2 separate regions of the Homo sapiens genome follow, and region 2 is linked to region 1. Evidence: fine-mapped expression QTL. Tissue or cell type: blood mononuclear cells. Region 1 holds a variant in brackets; the other region holds the start of a gene. All regions are shown on one strand. Distances are from middle to middle.

Region 1 (2,845 bases):
CTGGGCTGTAGTGCCAGTGTCTCCGCCGTGGGAACCTGGCAGTGTCTCTCCTGGCAGCCTCCACAGGCCCAGTGTCATTCTGGGACTCAGCACAGGTCTTCTCCATTTCTGCACCTGTACATTGCAGGTCACACCTGAGGATAGGACGACCTGAGGGCTGAGTGAGCTGACACGGTGAAGAGCTGCCAGCGCCTGCCCCAGTGGGGACTCCCTATTCTGTTCCGCATGCACCCAGGACTCCCCTTGAACACAGCAGTCTCCCCCTGCCTGGGGGACGGTGGGTCAGGGCCAACACTGTGCAAGAAGCCGTGGGAAGCCACCTCCACCCGCAACAAGCAGCTCAAAGCATCAGCAAGTCAAGAGCGTGGTTTTTAACTACAACAGGCAGAGAGGAAAGAGATGGTGAGTGTAAGGCTCTCACTCCCAGGCATTTACCAGGGCTCTGTGGTGCATCTCTTCCTTAGCTCACTCCTGGCCAGGATGTTCTTCCCTGACCCTGTTGCAGGTCACTGACGTCCCCAACCATGAGGACTTGTGATGGGCCCAGTGGGAGGTCGCAGCCAGGCACTATGATTGGGGGACTGAGTGGCTCTGAAAGATGTACCCTTCTTTCCCTTTCAGCTCAGAAGCAGCAGCCCCAGCTCTCGGCAGCTGGCTCCCTGCAAGCTGCTGCACACACGGCAAACCTCCTCTCCACGCCCGGCCCAGTGTGGTTCCCCCAGCAGATCAGGCCTGGCTGCCTCCGTGTCCACACCCTGACCTGCGGCTGAGGCCCATTTCTGTCTCCCGCGGTGATCCTACCTCCCAGCACGCTCCCATGTAGCTGTTGATTGTTCTCCTTCCCTTCCTCCCTTCCTCCCATCCTTTCTCCCTCTTCCCTGTCTGTGAATGGCATTTCTGGAGTGTGAGAGAGGCCCGGGACCGCAGGTATGTTTCCTGTCTGCCCGTTCTAATCAAAGGCAGATGCCTGCGGTGCGTCTGGCCTCGCAGAAGCGGAGAACCCATCCTCGGAGAGGGGCCAGAGGAGAACTGTGTGCTCCTTTATAGCTGCATGCTCGGGTAAGGGCTCTCTTTTTGCCTTTTACTATTTTAACTTCAGAAAGGCTACCCATCCTGTCTGGGGCTCCTGCCCTGCCTAGGACAGTAAGGTGGTATAGAATCGTCATCAGCTGTGAGCCCAGATAGTCCTGAGTTCAAATCCTGTGCCATCATTTCTTAGCTTCCCCTACCTTTCGTCCTCTGGAAAAAGGGGATGCTAGGTGAGGGACGAGGGAACAGTACAGCCACCAGCCCTGGCTTGCTGTTGGAGGGATGAGGCGGCAGAGCCCGCAGAAAGGTGGATACTTCATAGTGCCAGCCACGTTCCCGCCCCACCCCACAGTGCCCGAACCTGCAGGCGAGGCTGTAACCACGAGGAAAGCATCAGGGACCCGGTCACTCGTGCTCATGGACGACCTGCCCCTCCCAAGTCAAAGGTCGTCGCAGGAGAGCTGCC[CG/G]GGAAAGGAAGCGAAACCTGGCATTGTTCCAACAACCTCTTAGGCCCTGAATTTCTGTTTCTTAACAAAGTCACTGTTAGATTGTGTTGAAAAATAAGATCTAGGCTAACTTCCTTCTTGGGTCTTGGGACACTTTCTTGCTGTTATATGATCAAGGTGGGGGCTGCATAACTATTCCCCGCTGCACATACTCCCTCCCTTCCCCCTCAACTCCCTCCTTCCCCAACGCCCCCCACCCAGTGCAATCTACTTACTGTCTCTCCCACAGTGTTCCCCTAACAGGTTCCTGCTGGCACAAAGGGTCCCACCTTTGAAGACCTTTGGGTTTAAATCCCAGCTCAGTTCCTAACCAGCTGTGTGACATAGGAAAGTTGCTTAACCTCTCTGAGTCTCAGGATCGCCATCTGCAAAATCAAAGGGCTGATGGCAACATCTTCTTCTCAGGACTCATGGAAAATTAAACGAGCGCTGCTTCCAAAGATGTTTGTGCAGGGTGGAAACTCAGCACAGGGTCGTGTCCATTTCACAGCCTTCCAAGGGCTGCAGCCTAAATGTCTCCAGCCACGGGAGAGGATGACAGCTGCCCTTCTGTGGCAGGCCTTGGAGTAAAACTCCCAAACCATCCCCAGCCAGCAGAGGCTGCCCAGCCCAGCCCCTCCAGCAGGGCGGCTCCATAGACTACAGGGCAATACGGCCCAGAGGCTGTCCCTGTCCACTCCTGTTGCGCCAAGCTGGCTCCGGGAGGGGCTGGTGACTGGGAAAGATGCTACAGACACAAGTTTGATTTTTCATTAAATCCTCTAAACATTGTGAAAGGAAAATAAATATTGGGACCCCAAAATCACTAAGCCAAAGGATAAAGTCAAGCTGGGAACTGCTTAGGGCAAACCTGCCTCCCATTCTATTGCTAAAAAAAAAAGATGGCTACTAAGATTCAAAAGCTACATACCTCCCTCACAAGGAATTTCCTTCTGGACAAATGACAGACAGAACTCAAAGTCATCCCTCTGCTCGCCGAGATAAATGCATATCTGATTGCCTCCTTTGGAAAGGCTCATCAGAAACTCAAAAGAGTTTCACTGGGCTCCGTGGCTCATGCTTGTAATCCCAGCACTTTGGGAGGCCAAGGTGGGCGGATCATGAGGTCAGGAGATCAAGACCATCCTGGCTAAAACGGTGAAACCCCGTCTGTACCAAAAAAATACAAAAAAATTAGCCAGGCGTGGTGGCGGGTGCCTGTAGTCCCAGCTACTTGGGAGGCTGAGGCAGGAGAATGGCGTGAACCCAGGAGGCGGAGCTTGCAGTAAGCCGAGATTGCACCACCGCACTCCAGCCTGGGCGACAGAGCG
Region 2 (2,672 bases), 90 kb after region 1:
ATGTGAGGACTCCCTAGAGGGTGGGGAAGATGTTGGAGCTGAGCTATGAAAGATGAAGAAATTGGTTATTCACTGAATGTCAGGGCACAGAATGTCAGGGCAGGAAGACCACACACACACACACACACACACACACACACACACACACACACACCCTACTATTCATAGATGAGGAAACTGAGGCCCAGCAGAGCTAGATGACTTGCCGAAGGTCAGAGCTAATTCTAGAAACCCATCCCCAATCCCTTCCTGCTAAACCACTTAATTTTATTTATATCCCAGCTATAGATTATACAAATACACTTGACAAATAAAACGGAGAATATTGAGTTAAAACCACATCTCTGAAGACCACACGCATAAATAACGATCGTGTTTTAATGCGGACGATACCTTTTCATTTTGCAAATCCAGAGTTCTCATCATATCAAAATTCAAGACAGTTTGTTCTGTAAGAAGGGGAAGGTCATAACCCTGTCTAGAATGTACTGGCAAATCTCTCTAACCGTGCAGTGCTAATTTGGGCCTGAGCTGTGTAACCAGACCGACTTCACGCTCCAGCTGGGGTTTCAGATCCACACATGGCGATTGGGTGGCTCTTTGCTGTTTCACAGCAAGGGTCCTTCCCTGGGCTCCCGGAGCCTCTGGGGATTTACTGCTCCCGACGTGGCCGTGTTCAAGCCACTGTGTGCATGCGCTTAATGTTGAAAACATTCTTTTGAAAAGCCCAGGAGATTCCACTCGCAATCTGTGCGTGTGCATGTAAAAGCGCAGAGACTGGAAAGAACCGCGGCAGAGCACACCCTGACCGAAGGTTACCGCGGGGGAGCCGCGGCCGTGGGAGAGCCGCGGCCGTGGGAGGGAGTGCGATACGGTCTTTTCACTCTAGACACTCCTGAGTTATGTACAATTCTACGCAAGAATGTATGCGTGTGTTAGCATGTAATACATATGTATTAGTTTTTTCAGGAAGATTCTTAAACAACAACAAAATCTCTATAGAACAAAGGTGCGTCTCCGCAGAGCGCAACAGCATTTGTCTTGGATGTAACCGCCTTCTCCAGAAATCTCAGAGGAACTCCCCTCGACCACCGCCTAACTGAAGGACACCGTGCGCTCCACCGCAACCCTGCGGGCGATTCGGAAAGTTGGAGGCGCCCCGGGGAGTCGCCGCACTTGCCGCCCGCGCCCCCTAACCTGAGCATTCAAGGAGTCTTGACTTGGCCGCTGGCGCACTCCGCACCCACCCAGCCGGTGCTGATGCGGGAGGGTGGGGCCGCGGCGGGGCGGGGCAACGCGAGCCCGCACCCCGCTCCTCCCCGCCCCTCCCTGCCGGCCCCGCCCGCGCGCGCCCCCCGCCCGCGGCCCGGGCGCCCGGCCCGCCCCCTCCCCTCGGCGCGCAAACGAACCTCGCGACGCCGCGCTCGGCGGCGGGCGGGGGCCGGGCGAGGGAGGGGGCTGGTCCCGGCCGCCCCACTCTGCAGTTGTCTCCCGAGCGCTGGCTGCGCCGCCCGAGCCGCTGGGCCGGGGAAGCACTGGCCGTTCGCTCCCGGGCCGGCTCCGCCAGGCGCTCGCAGGCATGCAGCCCGGGAGCAGGAGGCGCTCCCCGGGCCGCTGCTGAGCCGGCCGGGGCGGCGGGGACCAGCGCCAGCGGAGCCCCTCCCACCTTGCCCCGGGGCAGACGAGCGGCGCCCCGACACCCCCTCTTCTCCCGCAGCCCCGCCAGCGCCACCCCCCGCGGGCCGCAGGGGCTCATGCAGCCGCCAAGGTAAGCGCGGGTCGGGAGCCGGGCAGACCCGGCTCTGACATCTCCGAGGCGCCGCCGACACATGCCGGGGCCACGGCGCTGCTTTGGTCTTCCTTAGCCCCGCGTCTCATCTTGCTCCCATCTTGCCCACATTTGGAGCTTTGCTGCGCCTCTATCGCTTTAGCTGTTGGCAGCAGGAAAGTTTTTGTGGTTTGGTGTTTGTTCTTTTTTCCTAAAATACTCTCCCCCGGGCAGCCGCCAGCGCGCGTGGTTGGGCAGACCCGGCACACGTCCCTTACACCGTGTGCGGGCTGGGAGCTCCTTCCCTCAGCCCGGCTCGCGGAGCCCCGGACGGAGCCGGCCACCCGACTGTCCCGCCGTGAACCCCCATTGGCCCGCGCCGCCCGGGCCCCCGCCTCCCGCTCGACGCCCGGCTGCGGAGCTGCCTGGCCATCTCCTGCCCTCGGGGATGTCGGCGCAGTGCACCGCGTGGGCTCGCGTCCCGGCGGCCCTTTGCCTCGGCGCGCCGGCGTACGGGAAGGTGCGGACCTTGGATTGAGGGCCGAGGATGCCCATTGCCAAGCCGCCCCGGCTTTCCTAAGTGGACGGGAGGGCACGGCGACGATTCAGCGCCGGCTCGCGCCGCAGCTCAACCCAGGGTACAAGCCCGGGCATGGGGGACAGGTGTATTCAATGGGAGGGCGGGTGTGGGGGACGCTCGGGTGCAATTCGGGATTGCGTCTTATTAATGTAATTGTATTAGACTTGCTCGGAGGTAGAATCAGTTCTCCCAAATTGAGATTTCTAATGGGAGCCTGTGAGCTGCTATTATGTGGTGTGGTTTTGGGAGGTGTTGGGTTGTATTTATTTTATAAATTGGGTGTCTCGCGGGCGGAGTAGGGGAAGTAGCGCCATCTAGCGGAAG

The links. PIP is the estimated chance that this variant, and not a neighbour inherited with it, causes the effect.
Region 2: RGMA starts here. The variant in region 1 is fine-mapped to the expression of RGMA in blood mononuclear cells (TOPMed, PIP above 0.99).

What each region holds. Positions count from the first base shown.
Region 1 is chr15:93,177,878-93,180,722 of GRCh38, reverse strand. No RefSeq gene overlaps it. Among named protein-coding and RNA genes, the nearest start is that of RGMA, 90 kb to the right of the region's middle. RefSeq lists enhancers at 1-248, 249-787. The variant CG/G (reference allele first, on the strand shown) is at 1,496.
Region 2 is chr15:93,088,015-93,090,686 of GRCh38, reverse strand. RGMA (repulsive guidance molecule BMP co-receptor a) reads left to right here and starts at 1,476. Exons shown (of 4, transcript NM_020211.3): 1 at 1,476-1,768. The coding sequence starts at 1,755. LOC101927025 (a long non-coding RNA gene) reads right to left here and starts at 1,473. Exons shown (of 5, transcript XR_007064769.1): 1 at 1,410-1,473.